2 separate regions of the Homo sapiens genome follow, and region 2 is linked to region 1. A link means that fine-mapping ties the variant in region 1 to the expression of a gene that starts in the linked region. Tissue or cell type: whole blood. Region 1 holds a variant in brackets; the other region holds the start of a gene. Each region is shown on its reference strand, or each on the opposite one.

Evidence for each region. PIP is the estimated chance that this variant, and not a neighbour inherited with it, causes the effect.
Region 2: it holds the start of MRM3, and the variant in region 1 is the best candidate, but not a certain one, in a credible set for the expression of MRM3 in whole blood (TOPMed, PIP 0.55).

Annotation. Positions count from the first base shown.
Region 1 is chr11:99,504,009-99,512,610 of GRCh38, reverse strand. The region is part of intron 2 of CNTN5 (contactin 5); the gene reads right to left. Among named protein-coding and RNA genes, the nearest start is that of CNTN5, 490 kb to the right of the region's middle. The variant T/C (reference allele first, on the strand shown) is at 3,518.
Region 2 is chr17:777,516-786,117 of GRCh38, reverse strand. MRM3 (mitochondrial rRNA methyltransferase 3) reads right to left here and starts at 3,765. Exons shown (of 4, transcript NM_018146.4): 1 at 3,426-3,765; 2 at 2,791-3,035. The coding sequence starts at 3,739. It overlaps GLOD4 (glyoxalase domain containing 4), which reads left to right and starts at 3,838. Exons shown (of 9, transcript NM_016080.4): 1 at 3,838-3,952; 2 at 7,374-7,423. The coding sequence starts at 3,863. RefSeq lists enhancers at 3,238-3,786, 3,458-3,807, 4,808-4,907.

The DNA of each region.
Region 1 (8,602 bases):
CAGGAAGTGAGCACATGATGTTGAAAAAATGGCACTAACAGACTTGCTGGACACAGGGTTTCCACGAGCCTTCACGTTATAAATAAGACAATATCTGCAAACTGCAATAAACCAAAGAGCAATAAAGCAAGGTATGCCTATACAGTCACTCTTCACTTAATGGCAGGGATATATTTTGAGAAATGCCCCATTAGGCGATTTCTTGTGAAAACATCATAAATATACTTTAACGAACCTGGGTGGTATAGATTACTACAATCCTAGGCTTTATGGGACATAGCCTGCTGCTCCTAGGCTACAGACCTGCACAGCATGTTACCGTGCTGCACACTATAGGCAATTGGAAGACAATGGTTAGTAACCTTACGCATGTATCTAAATGTATTAAAGGTATAGCAAAATGTGGTATGAAAGAAAAAATGCTATACCTGTCTAGGGCTCTTACTTTGAATGGAGGCGGCAGGGTTGGTATTTTGCTCTAGGTGAGTTCAGGAGTGAATGGGAGTGAATGTGAAGCCCTAGGACATTACTGTACACTACTGTAGACTTTATAAACACTGTGCATTTAGGCTACACTAAATTTATTTAAAATCTTTTTGTATCTTCAATAAATTAGCCTTAGCTTACTGTAATTAATTTACTTTATAAACTTAATTTTGTAAACTTTTTTGACTCATAACATTGAGCTTAAAACACAAATGCATTGTAGAGCTATACAAAAATATTTTTCTTTTTTTATGCAACTACATATTCAAAATTATTTATTTATTTATTTATTTAAATTTTATTATTATACTTTAAGTTTTAGGGTACATGTGCACAATGTGCAGGTTAGTTACATATGTATACATGTGCCATGCTAAATATATATGCACCCAATACAGGAGTACCCAGATTCATAAAGCAAGTCCTGAGTGACCTACAAAGAGACTTAGATTCCCACACAATAATAATGGGAGACTTTAACACCCCACTGTCAACATTAGACAGATCAACGAGACAGAAAGTTAACAAGGATACCCAGGAATTGAATTCAGCTCTGCACCAAGCAGACCTAATAGACATCTACAGAACTCTCCACCCCAAATCAACAGAATATACATTCTTTTCAGCACCACACCACACCTATTCCAAAATTGACCACATAGTTGGAAGTAAAGCTCTCCTCAGCAAATGTAAAAGAACAGAAATTATAACAAACTGTCTCTCAGACCACAGTGCAATCAAACTAGAACTCAGGATTAAGAAACTCACTCAAAACCTCTCAACTACATGGAAACTGAACAACCTGCTCCTGAATGACTACTGGGTACGTAACGAAATGAAGGCAGAAATAAAGATGTTCTTTGAAACCAACGAGAACAAAGACACCACATACCAGAATCTCTGGGACACATTCAAAGCAGTGTGTAGAGGGAAATTTATAGCACTAAATGCTCACAAGAGAAAGCAGGAAAGATCCAAAATTGACACCCTACAAAAATATTTTTCTTTATGTTCTTTTCTATAAGATTTTTTCTATTTAATTTTTTTTAATGTTTACGCTTTTTAAATTAAAAACTAAAACATAAACAAACACATCAGCCGAGGCCTGCAAAGGGTCAGGATCATCAGTATCACTGTCTTGCCCCTTTACATCTTGTTCCACTGAAAGGTCTTTAGTGGTAATAAGATGCACGAAGCTGTCATCTCCTATGATTATAATAATGACTTCCTCTGGAATACTTCCTGAAGAACTTGCCTAAGGCTGTTTTACACTCAACTTTATAAAAAATATCTGAAAGGAGAACATTCTAAAGTAATGATGAAAAGTATAGTATAGTACATATGTAAACCAGTAACATAGTTGTATATTATCATTATGTAACTGGCAGTCCAATAGTTTTGTTTACAGCAGCATCACCATAAACGTTGAATAATGCATTGCAGTACATTACAAAGGACACAATGTCACTAAATGATAGGAATTTTTCAGCTCCACTATTGAAGCACCCTCATATATGCAGTCCATTATTGACCAAAACATTGTTATGGGGTACATGACTGTATGCATACTCATATTTTGTATGAATGTGTATATGTACTTTTCTGAAGCACATACAACTCATACTAGAACTGCTATGTTGCATCCATTAGTTTTCTGTTAACAAGATTGTAGACATGTTTAAATATCAGTAATATTAGAAGTCAGATTTCTAGGTCAAAAGATGCGTGCAGTTTCACTTTGATAGTTTCTAAATTGCCCTCAGAAAGGTTATGCCAGTTTATACTCTCACCAACAGTGTTTGAGAGTCTCTTTTTTTCCCACACCTATAACAACAGATAAATCTTTCAATCCGATATGTTAACAAAGGTCTCATTGTTTCATTTACTTGGTTGTAAGAATGGTTGGCTCTGATTTATATACTTGTTGCCCCATTTTGTTCTTTCTGTAAGCACTCTCTGCTTGTGTCTTTTGACTATATTATTATACAATAATTATAAAGGCTAAAATATATTGGATAGTTATTCTGTGCCAAGCACTGTTTTAAGTAATCTGCCAGTATTACGCAATTTAAGCCCCATAATAGAAACAAGAATTATTTTAATTTTCATTTACATTTTTTTTAAAATTGAGGCAAAGAGAGATTAAGCGACATTTGTATATAGACTTACAGAAATATTAATAGATGGAGTCAGAACTTGAATTCAAGCCCAGTAGTTTGTGTGTTTACCTCCTGTGCAGCATTACCTTTTATTATCACATTGTTTGAATTTTTCATACTATGTAGGGAATACTTTTTCTAAGTTGAGAAAATTAATTCATAACATTAATAAATAGATGTATTAAGGAAATTACCCCTATATTAAATGATCAATAATCTCTTTTTTTCTCAGTAAAATATTTTTTATTTTTATTTATTCATTTTTGTGTATATTTTGTTTTCATTAAAAGGTTCTATTCAGATGTAAATCAAAACCTCTGGGACATCATACTATTTTATTAAGTTATGAGACTTCAAAAATTCAATCACTTATTTTGTTGTATCAGAGTCTAAAAATCATTTTGGTCAGTTATATTTTAAAAGACTGCTTTAAAATTTCAACAGCACCTTCCCTTTTTGCTCTTTCTCTTTGCCAGTTTAACCAATATCCTTATCTCTTCTCAGTGAACATGAAGAAGAATTCACCATTTCTATTTTGAATGTGCACAGAGATTTGTATTAAATTAATCTTAATTTCCTCTATTAAATTAAATCAAATTAAATCTTTAATGTTTGTTTACAAATTTTTTGAGAATTTTTCATGTACGATGGTGAACTGACTTTAGTTTTTTAGTACACCCTGAAAACAAACAAAAAACAAGAATGACAACTCTGCTTTTTAAATGAAGATCCTAAAGAACACAGGGATGAGCTCAAAGACATTTTCTATTCTTGTTGGCCAAATCTTCTGAAATATATATGAGAATTCCCTTTCATAGGTATAGTACAACATGATGATTTATATTCAACTTAGTACTTTTGGTTCTAAGATA[T/C]ATTCCCCCCATATCATATCTGTGTAAGTGTTGTATCTTTTTAAAATTAGATGGTATTTTTTTCCCACTTCATATTTACACTTTATGTATTTATTTATAAAATTTATCTTGGCGGCCGGGCATGGTGGCTCACGCCTGTAATCCCAGCACTTTGGGAGGCTGCGGCGGGCTGATCACTTGAGGTCAGGAGTTTGAAACCAGCCTGGCCAATCTGGTGAAACCCCGTCTCTACTAAAAATAAAAAATTAGCCGGGCATTGTGGCGCATGCCTGTAATCCCAGCTACTTGGGAGGCTGAGGCAGGAGAATCGCTTGAACTCAGGAGGAGGAAGTTACAGTGAGCCGAGATCGCGCCACACCGCACTCCAGCCTGGGTGACAAGAACAAAATTCCGTGTCAAAAAAAAAAGAAAGAAAAGAAAAATTATATTATGCGTTGCTGAACCTGAGTCACTTCAGTTGATATAAAAGCCTACGTTTTTAAAGATTGTAATTTTATATACAGCTAATTGCAGTTTGCTCTCATTATCCATTGAGGAAGGGCTCCGCAAACCCTGTGGATACAAAAAGCTGTGGATGCTCAAGTCGCTTGTATGAAATGGTAGTACAGCCAGCACTCAGTATGTGTGGCTCTGCATCGGTGTACTCAGTCAACAACCCTGGATCCAAAAGCCGGCCCTCTGTGTCCACGGGTTCCACATCACATACGAAGGGCTGACTGTAAATGACAACAATTTTCTTTAAAATTATAAAATATTTTAAAATATTACCCAGTAGCTGGGGAAAAGGAAAGGCAGGCGCTTAACATATGTGCCAGTCATGAACCTAGGTATTTTATACAAATTAATTACTCAGAAAGCTTATGAGGCAAATATTATTATTTTCATTTTACAACGGAGTGGCTCAGCGAGATCACTACAAACTGTTTTGGCTCCCAAGCCTACGTTCTTTCTTCAGCAGGATGACATTTTATACAGCATTATCACCAAACATAACTCTGTCCTAACACTGAAGACATGTTTTGGACAAGAGTATATTTTGAATATGAAAATGTCATTTGACTATATTAACTTCCATTTTAGTAGAGCTGATGTTGCTCTGTAATGAAGTGAATAAAATAATAATAAAAACTAACATTTACTTCATAAAAACACATTTGAGTTAAGTTTTATAAAGCCATTCAAGCACTTAACTCACTCACTCATGTAATAGTTATTTATCTTGAACTTACTAGGTCCAGAAAAATACTCTGTGTTTTAAAACCTGGGCTCTACCCTACCAAAAACGGAAAAGAAGCTGGAAGAAAGCACTTGGAAAAGTAAAACATATTTACACTTGATGAAAAAATATGGCACGTGAAAAGTTGAGTCACACTTGTGAGGTTAAAATGTTTACTGCCAATATTTTTAAAACTTTGGAGCAGAATGAGGGAAAAATGTAAATATTCCATATCTAAATGTTATGTATAAAATATTAATATTATACTGCATTTCTTTCTAGAATATTTTCAAAGTACATCGTTTATGTATTTTAGGTCAATGTCTTGTTAGCTACACATCACAACCCATTTTTTGGTCAATAAATCACTTTAACAGGTCACAATTCAAATTCTTTTAAAATTAAATTAAAACAGAGAGAAAAAAGAAAATGTCAATATACATTATATTTAATGGGATGACTATTGTTTTGAAAAACCTTTCTTTTTTTTTTTTTTTTTTTTGAGACAGAGTCTCCTTTTGTTGCCAGGCTGGAGTGCAGTGGCACCATCTCGGCTCACTGCAACTTCTGCCTCCCGGGTTCAAGCGATTCTCCTGCCTCAGCCTCCCGAGTAGCTGGGACTACAGGTGCGCACCACCATGCCTAGCTAATTTTTGTATTTTTAGTGTAGAAGAGAGTTTCACCATGTTGGCCAGGATGGTCTCGAGCTCTTGACCTCATGATCTGCCTGCCTCGGCCTCCCAAAGTACTGGGATTACAGGTGTGAGAAAAACTTGTTTTATTTGTGTATTATGTATGCATATATGAGGGTCATAGGTACAATACACTTTTTATTTTTAAAAATGGAAACTAAAACATCTGAAAAACATTGATTTAGATCATTTCATATGTTAGATGTCAAATTCTGCTTTTTCATAAAAATAGCATTTTTCAACTTTTTATATTTTTTTAAATAAATACAATTGTCTCCACTCATATAATATTCCCTCAGGTTGTTCTCATTAAATTTGATCAATTACTTCATTTTGGGCATTTTGGTTATTGATATTTTTTACTATAACAAATAATGTAGTGACTTTGTTAGACTTTACATTTACTTTCTTGAAATATATTCCTACAATTACTACTATGAAGTAAACAGACAATAACAATTAAAACAGTATTTAGAACTACTGGTTATTTAATTTTACTTATTTACGTTACTACATTGAAATTCCTACTTATTTACAAGTAAAATGTGACATTACAGTAAATTTAGAAGAGAAAAAACACACACTTTTACTATACAAACACTATAATTTTTTTTAAGTATTTACTCATTGTTTGCAATGACTATTTTTCAAGGCGCAAATCGTCTACCTAAAACAAATCGCAATACTGAAAACTAAGAATAAATGAGAGGCACTGGTACCTGGAAAGGTGGACACAAGACAGAGGTGTGAACCTGCCTTCGTTTAAAAAAATAGAAAAGATATTTGTATAAGAATCTGCATAACATACACATTGTAAACAGAGAGCAAGATGCTCACATGATGGAAGAATAACTGTCTCATGCCATTAAAAAGAGAGAACATTTTTTTCTTTTTCAACAAAGATACTCAAAATTATGGAAATACTTATTTTGCATGGGGATTTTCATTTTTAGTACGATCCTGAGCAAGGGCCCCAGACTAATTTGCTGACCAAGAAATGATGAGCATGAGGACAAGCCGTACCATTCAGATTCATGGATCAAAAAGTCCAAGATCAACTACCAGTAACAAATGTTAAAGCTGTCAAAAAATACTCAGAGCAACAAGCTGGAATGCATTATGCAGCAGCCTAAGGTGAGGGATTACCTCCTGTTTATTCAGGCAGCTCAAATGTGGAAGCAAAAGCCACTGTACCTGATCCGTTATGACTTTGAAAAGTGAAAAGAACACACACTAGTTAACACACAGAGTTCGGAATTGGCAATTAGCTAGCCCTTGGCCTGAAGAGTGTCATTCATTTATGGACCAATGACCAGGAGCCTGGCAAAATGCTCCTTGCTGATTAGGTTCAGAAAATTCTAAGTGGGGAAAAGAGGAAGATCCTTTAGCAACACAATGAGGCCTGCATTTTTACTAACCTGGAGAAATGCAAAGGTTTGATATTATTTAAAAAACAAAAATGAAATTCAATGTGGAAAATCTGTTACATAGGGATTGGGGGAGGAGATATAATTGTGTTATCTTCCAGCATCCAAGCCTTACGTGTATAAAGAAACAAGAAGGTAATTAGGAATACCACAAGATTTCCCAAAGGCTGGATTTATCTTGTGTAACAAATTCTCTGGCAGCTTTCTAACATTGCTATTTGGGCCTCCTGTCTAAATGACCAGAGTGAATCATTCAAAAGTTATGTTGAAAAAAATTTATTAAGCTCTCAAAAAACTCTATTCTTCCCACATCATACTTGTTTCTGTAAATTATCCTGCATACTAACTCTTTCTCTCTTCTGCAAATACTATTCAGCAAAGCAGGACAGTGAGGAAAGCAGGACAAAGAGTACTGATAATCAATGCTCTTATATCCCAAATTTGTACAGATAATTTCTACCATTAGAGATTTACTACTTTGTGTCAGCATGTCTTTTTTTAAAATGTTAACATCAAATTGGGATACCATATAAAAGCAATAAATGGTCACCCATTCTTTAATATAAATTAAACAAGTCCAGCGCTTTCTTTCAAACAGCAAGTTTACTGTATAACTTGGGCGAAATGGGAGGTATGCTGAGAGAGAAGAAAGAAAACATACTGGAACACAATTGAGTCTTGAGAAGAGGCCATCCCAGTAGACATAAAGTCAACCAGAAGTCAGAAGTGGGACAAAAAGGATCTGACTTAAGAATTTATTAAGTGGCTGCAAAATATTCAAAGACTATTTTATTTCTGCTTGCCTCTTTCCCCTGCTTTTTACATTCTCTTCTCCTTTCCTTTTTCACTTAGAATTAGGAGAGCAATAAACTATGGTTTCTGCACTCAAGAAGTTGTGGTCTGTTAAGGAAAGTAGCACCAAAGACAACTATCTGTAATGCAATTTCAAGGTCAAGGGAACTCTAATCACAAGTGGTTAAGTCTATGGAGTCAGCAAAAGAAGGTTTCAAAGAGTGAAGAATCTTTCATTTGGAGCTTGAAGAACGACTTTCTAACAATTTACTTGATGTTACAGTAACTTCCTGCTTAAAATCCAAAGTTCTATTAAAAATATATACATTCATCCACAACAAGAGTAGAAATATTAAATCAGACAACTGAATTGTTAGTGTGTCTCAAATGTAAAATTATATTTTAATTTCTTTTCTTTCTTTTTTTTTTTTTTTTTTGAGACGGAGTCTGGCTCTGTTGCCCAGGCTGGCGTGCAGTGGCTCACTGCACCCTCCGCCTCCCGGGTTCAAGCGATTCTCCTACCTCAGCCTCCCAAGTAGCTGGGGCTAAAGGCCTGTGCCACTATGCCCGGCTAATTTTTTGTACTTTAGTAGAGACGGGGTTTCACCGTGTTAGCCATGATGGTCTCGATCTCCTGCCCTCATGATGTGCCCACCTCAGCCTCCCAAAGTGCTGGGATTACAGGCATGAGCCATCACGCCCAGCCACTTTAATTTCTTTTGGATCATATAAGAGTAAAAACACTTGTCTAAACCCATGGGTGCTAGGATTATTATCAAAATATTAGTTTACATCAAAACTCTACCTTTTCTAAAAAAAGTCAGTTTGTTGATCATATTAAAATTACCTTAAATCTGTGCAGCCCCTGTTCACCACAGATTTATAATTCAAATACATTCACCTAAATATGGGTGAGAAAAATCTTGTAAGCCAAGCATCTCATTGAACAATTAACACA
Region 2 (8,602 bases), not on the chromosome of region 1:
CAAAAAACAAAACAAAACAAAACCTGTTTTCCAGCTCAAACCCTTCTTAAAAGCGGGTCTATCATTTGTTTCCATTTGTCCCAATGTGATAGAAAAAACAGCATGCCATTATTTTAACTTGCCTTTTCTCTGATTACTAGAGAAGCTAAACACCTTACTGACTGACTGCGATCTTCTTCAGTGAATTCCTGTGCTCCTTTAACTGTCTTGTTTCTACAACCTGTGCCCATCTTCCTACCAGGTAGGCTTTTAAAAAATAGTTTATAGGCTTAAATATTTAAAAAACAATTATTAGCCTGCTATACTGATTTATCTTTCCTTTATCACTCATTTTAAAATTCAAACTACATTCCTAGGAAAAAGAATATGAATTTCAAAACTTGAATGCATCAAAGTAACAACCCCTTTTTCAAATACGCTGGCTCAGAAGCACTGTCTTAGGGACATACTCTGCAAAACGAAGGGGCTGTAGGTGCAGTGAACGCTTGAGTCACTTCCAAGGCCTCACGCTGGAGGTCCAGAAGCCTGGGAGCTTTAGAATGGGTACAGCCACTTACTGGCGACCGCTCTGTCCTCAGTCTAATACAAAGGAGTAAAATGGGGTCTGGGACTATCTGGGAAAATGAAAACCCTAAGTGGCCTTCTTAGTGGAAAATTCTCTCCTTATTTAATGATCTCTACATGATAAAATTATATATACATTATATAATAATCTACATTATATAATCTCTACATTATTAATCTCTAAAGTTTTATGGAAAGAATTTATGGGAAAAGAGAAAAATTGGAAAAAGGCTAATAACAATATTAAAAATGGCTTTGAGTACATGAAATTGCTGTGGTATAGATGAAGTTATTCACATGGGTGTATCACATATCCACAAGTTTCTTTTTGAATCACCATGTTTACTGGTAGAGGTGATAATGATAACCTTTTAGTAAGCTTTTTTTTTTAAGCCAAGCACTACCCTAAACTCTTTATGTATAATTATCAAATATTCAATCCCTTTGTAGTCTGCTCCCAAGGGACTGTACAGTTTTTTTGAATCTTACTAGTATTTTGTCGTATATGATTGCTACAATAAATGGGCTACTGACTGAAGTCAGGAGATGAATGAAATAGTACTTGTACTGAAACATGATACAATCAAAGATTTAGGATTCTTTCTAAAAGATGGTGCAGGTAAAAAGCCTATCCACCACTGAAGGCAATGGAAGGGTATTAGGCGTCTGTGTGCTGTGAGAGAGCCTCCACTTCGGAGTCACAGATGGCCAAAAGCCATTCAGTAGGGCTGAGGACCTTAGAAGTCCTTTACTTCTACTTGGATGTCTGTGGTGATGAGAACCCACTATACGGAGGCCCTACTTATGTCGCTGGATTCTGGGGAGTGTCTGTCTAAAGCCTGACAGGTGCTGCCAGTTCCTATCCATTTCTCCCTTATTCCCTGCCCTCAAATCTAAAATATAGTAACATAAGGATAAGCCAGGAAATGATGAAAGCAGGTATGATGATGAAGTTCAAGATGGGTTGGCCACTGTAAGCACACCTGCCCCAAGTGACAAGCACAAGTTCAAGATGGGCTGGCCACTGTGAGCACACCTGCCCCAAGTGACAAGCACAAGTTCAAGATGGGCTGGCCACTGTGAGCACACCTGCCCCAAGTGACAAGCACGGTAAAAATGAATAACACTTTCACTGAAGCATGGCGTGTGGATTAGAGGGCTGTAGCTAGTGAGAATATGGTTACTTAGCATGAGTAATTCTAGGTACTTTAGTAATCCAAGTCCCCATCCTAGGATCTAAGAGCTCTGAGTGCAGAGGCACAGATCCCTGTGACTCACTGGGTTACAGAGACAAGAGATGGTTCCCCAGAATCTCCTCTCTCAGCAGTTCAAGGATTCAGTTTTCATATCTTAAAACTCCCATGTCAAAAACGTATGAAAAACTTATCTTCTCATATTTAGACCAAAGACTTTGTAACTGCTAATCAACATCGGAGTTACATAAGGTTAAGTCAGATTCAGCCAAATGAAGGAACAGACTAGAAGACAAGGTTCTCTGTTTATTGGGCTAAACGGGGCAGTAAATTGTGGCTTGTACCTCGCTTCTTAGATCTGCTTCTGGAATAAGCAGTTTATTGACAGTTATCACCACATTGGCAGAGGTTTTGCAAAAATGAAGGGCTCAATCTTTCAGTAAACGCTTTCTTAATTTTTAATCTGACATAGAAAGTTGAAGAAGTAATCTAAAAAATAGAAGGTTTGAGGAATAGTGGTTCTTCCTAGAGACCATAAAGAGCCACAACACAAATGATAGTGAAAAACGGGTTTCAATTTCCATTGAAAATACTCTAAGATACACAGGTTTGAGAATTATATTTTTCTAATTGTAACATTTTGAATTTCATTTCAATGCTGCTGTCCTAAGACAAGTATGAGAAATTAATCCTAGGTCTCCACACCTTAAGATACACTGTGTAAGGCCAGGCATGGTGGCTCACGCCTGTAATCCCAGCACTTTGGGAGGCCGAGGCAGGAGGATCACCTGAGGTCACAAGTTCGACGTCAGCCTGGCCAACATGGTGAAACCCCACCTCTACTAAAAATACAAAAATCACCCGGGCATGGTGGCAGACGCCTGTAATCCCAGCTACTGCGGAGGCTGAGGCAAGAGAATCCCTTGAACCCGAGAGGCGGAGGTTGCAGTGGGCCGAGATCGCGCCATTGCACTCCAGCCTGGGTGACAGAACAAGACAAAAAAAAAAAAAGATACACTGGGTAATCACTAACCCATTATTCCTTGTGGCGTTACGAGGTCGGACCAATCCTTGATATCCTCAAATTTCACCTTAATGAGGCTGACACCTTTCAGCTTATCGACTGGCAACTCCTTTAGGTATTCTAGACGGCTAAAGAAGAACATTTTTGGCACAGCTCCAGCCTTGAGAGCGTCTGAAATGAGCCTGCGACCTTCCAGCAGGATCTTCCCTTGTTTTTCCCGAAATGGCCTGGACTTTACTATTGTCATTACACTGCTGTAGATGGAAATAAAAAAAAAAAACAGGTAACTATCAACATCCTTGTTACTGAGACACGCTTAGTTGTAACAGAAATAAAGAGCTACGGAGAGGGCCGGGCGCGGTGGCTCACGCCTGTAATCCCAGCACATTGGGAGGCCGAGGCGGGCGGATCACCTGAGGTCAGGAGTTCCAGATCAGCCTGGCTAACATGGTGAAACAAAAACAACAACAAAGAGCTAAGGAGAAACAGAAGCTAATTCCAAAGACGCTTATTCGGCCCTCTGTGCATAATACAAAAACCAGCGGGCTGTACTGGAAGAAGTCCTCCATCGGAAGGAGGTTAAGGTTCCGCTGTGCGACGGGAAGGGAAACGAGAACATTCGACAGGCTCAAGAACCACATCACCTCAGCCTCCTGTCCCCGGGATAAGCTTTATCGTAGCGAAGCCCAGACTCTTCCCAGGTGCTGGGAGCGCGGGATGCGGACTCCTCGAGCGGTTGTTTCTCTCGTTGCTCCTGGGCACTGGCCTCAGATGGTGCCTTGCGGGGCTGCTTCCCAGGAGCGCGCTTCTGTTCCACCACCTCTCCGGAAGGAAACACCACTTTCACTGGGCTCCGCCGCAGCGCCCGGACCCAGCGCCTCGCGTCAAGGTCCCAAGCCTGGACCACCTGCAGCAACGGTCGCACGACAAACCTCGCGGGTCTCACCAGCGCCGCCATGTTCCCTGAGACCCGGGCTGCGTCACGAAAGCGCGCCGTCGGCGGCTAGTGACGTCACGGCCCGTGGCGCCCTTCGTGGACTGGGCTGTACGGTGCGCGTGACGGCTGCGTGCGGCGGGAATCATGGCTGCTCGCAGAGCTCTGCACTTCGTATTCAAAGTGGGAAACCGCTTCCAGACGGCGCGTTTCTATCGGGACGTCCTGGGGATGAAGGTGCAGGCCGGGGCCGACAGGGGCTGGCGCGCGAGGCTGGAACCGGCGCCCGAGCCGGCCCTGGCGGAGGGAGGGGAAAATGGGTGTGTCGTGAACCTAAGCCGGAGGGTGTCCGACCTTAGGCCCTGCGCGGTGTTCAGCTTCAGGAGCGTGGCGAGTTGCCGTTGGGGATCATAGGCCTTGGAGAAGGGCCTAACACGATTAGTCCCCGCGGTGTGCCCACGCACGTCCTTTCATTTAAGCCACTCGTAAACGTTTATTGAGCCCCGCCCTTGTGGAGCTTACCGTCTACCGGAAAAGACGGTAAATAAAATGTTATATAATGCTTTCTAGTTAATATTTGTGTTTTCCGGTTTGGAGCCTTTGATGTAGATAAAATCAGCGTATTCAGAGTTCTGCTTCTAGCAAGGCTGGTCTGAATAGTCCGTTTCGGATACTCAGTCTCTGAATATATGCTCCAACTCTCAACCCATCTGCTTTTCAACAGCACCCAGAAGCGGTCTGTCTCGGGTCCTGAGGAGCTGTTATTTGCAGGATTCAGTTGGTTGGGGAACTGGGTTTTGGGGACCTCCTTTGATAAGCCAGGGAGGTAGGGAACACACCACTAAGGAAGACTTGAAAGGTGCAAGAGCGCGGTTTAGTGTATAGACGGTGCAATAGACGGGGATCTGAATTCGTCAGGTCATTTTTAAAATATCTGCTATTTTCAGGGTACTACGTTGAGTTTTGGCAACAAAGGTGCAAATGACCCTGATATATATCCTCCATTAGAGCTCATGGCCTGGGTTGGGGTGGGAGTTGGAACTGGATTTGTACGTAGATGATGGTAATGGAAGTCAGAATTTGATAGTGAAAAACCACCAAACTTTCGATAGCAGAAACCACAGAGCTGTCCCTTGTTAGTATTTCCTCGTCGATCAAAAGGTTGTTGCAAAGATTAAACACGTGCCGGCGCGGTGGCCCACGCCTGTAATCTCAGCACTTTGGGAGGCCAAGGCGGGTGGATCACTGGAGGTCAGGAGTTGGACACCAGCCTGGCCAACATGGTGAAACCCTGTCTCTACTAAAAATACAAAAATTAGCCGGGCATGGTGGCACACGCCTGTAATCCCAGCTACTCGGGAGGCTGAGGCAAGAGAATCGCCTGTATCTGGGAGGCGGAGGTTGCAGTGAGCCGAGATCGCACCATTGTGTTCCAGCCTGGATGACGAAAGCAAAACTCCGTCTCAAAAAAAAAAAAAAAAAAAAGATTCAACACCTTATTATATGTATAGTATTTAACATATCGGTAATAGTAGATTATATAAGTGTTAGCCACTATTATAAAAATACAAAAGAAGGAGCGGTTTTCCAACCTGGGTGATGAGGAAATAATTCATGTAGACCTTGTATTCGAGTTGACTTTTTTTTTTTTTTTTTTTTTTGAGGTGGAGTCTTGCTCTGTCGCCAGGCTGGAGTGCAGTGGCGCGATCTCGGCTCACTGTAAGCTCAGCCTCCCGGGTTCACACCATTCTCCTGCCTCAGCCTCCCGAGTAGCTGGGACCACAGGCGCGTACCACAACACCCGGCTAATTTTTAAAAATATTTTTAGTAGAGACGGGGTTTCACCGTGTTAGCCAGGATTCGAGTTGACGTCTAAAGATAGGATATCCACAGGTAGATGAGAGGAGGAGCTACATAGTAAAACTGAAGAGCCAGTGCGGAGATGGCACATGTTTGCGAAGCCGCTGGTTTTATGTGCCTTTAGTTGAGGTTGCTTAGTTGAAGTTAAGGAGATGGGATATCAGGATGGACAGGTCGGCATTGCTTCTAATAGTATCTTGAATGCTATGCTAAAGAATTTGGATTTTATGCTGCAGTAAGATGGGAGCTCACTTATGTTCTTAAACAGGGTGGTGATGGGATCAGTGCTTTGTGCTTTAGGCATGTGCTTTTTTGGTGTTATTAAGGAAGGATATCAATAAGGATTTTTTTATTTTTTATTTTTTATTTTTTTTATGTTGAGACGGAGTCTCGCTCTTTCGCCCAGGCTGGAGTGCAGTGGCGCAATCTCGGCTCACTGCAAGCTCCGCCTCCTGGGTTCACACCATTCTCCTGCCTCAGCCTCCCGAGTAGCTGGTACTACAGGCGCCCGCCACCACGCCCTGCTTATTTTTTGTATTTTTAGTAGAGATGGGGTTTTACTGTGTTAGCCAGGATGGTCTCGATCTCCTGACCTCATGATCCACCCACCTCGGCCTCCCAAAGTGCTGGGATTACAGGCGTGAGCCACCGCGCCCGGCCAATAAGGATGATTTTTAATAGTCTGAGCGAAGCGTTGGGAACTTCAACTGGCAGGAGCCGTGGGAATCAAAAAGGAGGGCTAAAGCTAACACGTTGAGAGCCCGCTGTGTGCAGGGTTCTGTGAGATGCTTTCATAACATCCATTCCCATCACATGTTAGGAGACTGAGACTCAGATTCTAATTTGCTCAGAGTTACACAACTACTAAATGACAGAATTCCAAATCAGACTTTTTTTTTTTTTTGAGTTTGAGTTTTGCTCTTGTCACCCAGGCTGGAGTGTAATGGTGCAATCTCAGCTCATTGCAACCTCTGCCTCCCGTGTTCAAGCAATTCTCCTACCTCAGCCTCCTGAGTAGCTGGGATTACAAGCGCCCACCACCATGCCTGGCTAATTTTGTATTTTTTATATTTTTAGTAGAGATGGGGTTTCACTGTGTTGGCTAGGCTGGTCTCGAACTCCCGACCTCAGGTGATCTGCCCACCTCAGCCTCCCAAAGTGCTGGGATTACAGGCGTGAGCCACGATGCCCATCTTTTTTTTTTTTTTTTTTTTTTTTTTTTTAATTTGAGATGGAATTTTGCTCTTGTCACCCAGGCTGTAGTGCAGGGGCACGATCTCGGCTCACTGCAACCTCCATCTCATGGTCCAAGTGATTCTCCTGCCTCAACCTCCTGAGTAGCTGGGATCACAAGCACACGCCACCACGCCTGGCTAATTTTTGTATTTTTAGTTGAGACGGGGTTTCACTATGTTTGCCAGGTTGATCTTGAACTCCTGACCTCAGGCAGTCCACCCACCTTGATCTCCCAAAGTGCTGGTATTATAGGCGTGAGTCACTGTGCCCGGCCCAAATCAGACTTCTTTAATGCTGAAGGCCACACTTTTTCCCACTGCATAGCACTGCTTACCAATCTAAATAGATTTCACAACTGATTTGGTAGCCTGACCCTTGGTGTCAAGCTGTTCGTCCTTCCACTGCTTCTATCCTGGGAGAAGTGTAAAGCTCATTTGCTTTTGTTCTTTTACAAGTAAAGCTTATAAATGATAATGTTTGTGTTTTGACATTTTAGTCTGTGCTAAAGACGCTGTGAGCAGTACTAGCAACACTTCACAATTTATTCTAAATCTCACACCAGGTTCTGCGGCATGAGGAATTTGAAGAAGGCTGCAAAGCTGCCTGTAATGGGTATGATACCTTGTTTCTTAAAATCTCCTTTAGGCTCTGACTACACCCGGATAACAGAAGACAGTTTCTCAAAGTGAGTATAAAGCAGTGGAATTAATTAAGGAGGCAGTAAATTAGGGAGGCAACTTCAGGAGCGTCGGGAACACATACTGTTTCTCTGCACTCTCATGAGTATAAAGCAGTGGAATTAATTAAGAAGGCAGTAAATTAGGGAGGCAACTTCAGGAGCGTCGGGAACACATTTCTCTGCACTCTCATACAACACCTGTGGGACACAAAGGGATTCTCCAGCTCTCTAACACCAGCCGGCTGTCCTGTTATTTAATTGATTCTGACTCTACCTGGAGTTAATGTCAGATCCTGCAAGTTAAGGGCTCAGTCCCAGAAGATTTTCCGCCACGTCAGGCGCCGGTCACAGTCTGGATCTTCAGGATTTCCGATGACCAACTACAAGTCAGGGCTCCCGCTCCTGCTTCCTTGGGTTTGATAGTCTGCTACAGTGGCTCATGGAACTAAGGGAAACGCTGGAAACACTTACTTACATTTACTGGTTTATCATAAAGAGTACGAGTCAGAAATGGCTGGACAGAGGAGATACACAGGGCAGGGCATGGGGAGTGGGTGGCAGAGCTTCCATGCTCTTCTGGGCAGGCTCCAATCCAGCACCTCCCTACGTTCAGCATCCCAGAAGCTCATGAGTCTCATTGTTCAAGCCTAATAGAGCCCAGTCTCCATCCCTTTCCTTCCCAGAGGTTGGTGGATGGGACTGAAAGTTCAGTCCTCTAATCATTTGTCTTTCTGGTGACCAGCCCCATCCTGAGTCTATGTAGAGGCCCCACTCTAAGTCACTTCATTAGCATAAACTCAGGTGTGACTGAAAGGGGCTCATTATGAATATAACAAAAGATATTCCTATCAGGAAATTCCAGAGGTTTTGGGAGCTCTGAGACAGGAACCAGGGACAATGACCAGATATGTTTCATATTATGCCACAAATGCAAATAAGTACATGCTCTAGATGAAGCAGCGGCTTTCCAGTATCTTTTTTTTTTTGAGACAGAATCTCACTTTGTCACCCAGGTGGGAGTGCGGGGTCATTATCCTGGCTCACTGCAACCTCTGTCTTCTGAGTTCAAGCAATTCTCCTCCCTCAGCCTCCCTAGTACGTGGGACTATGGG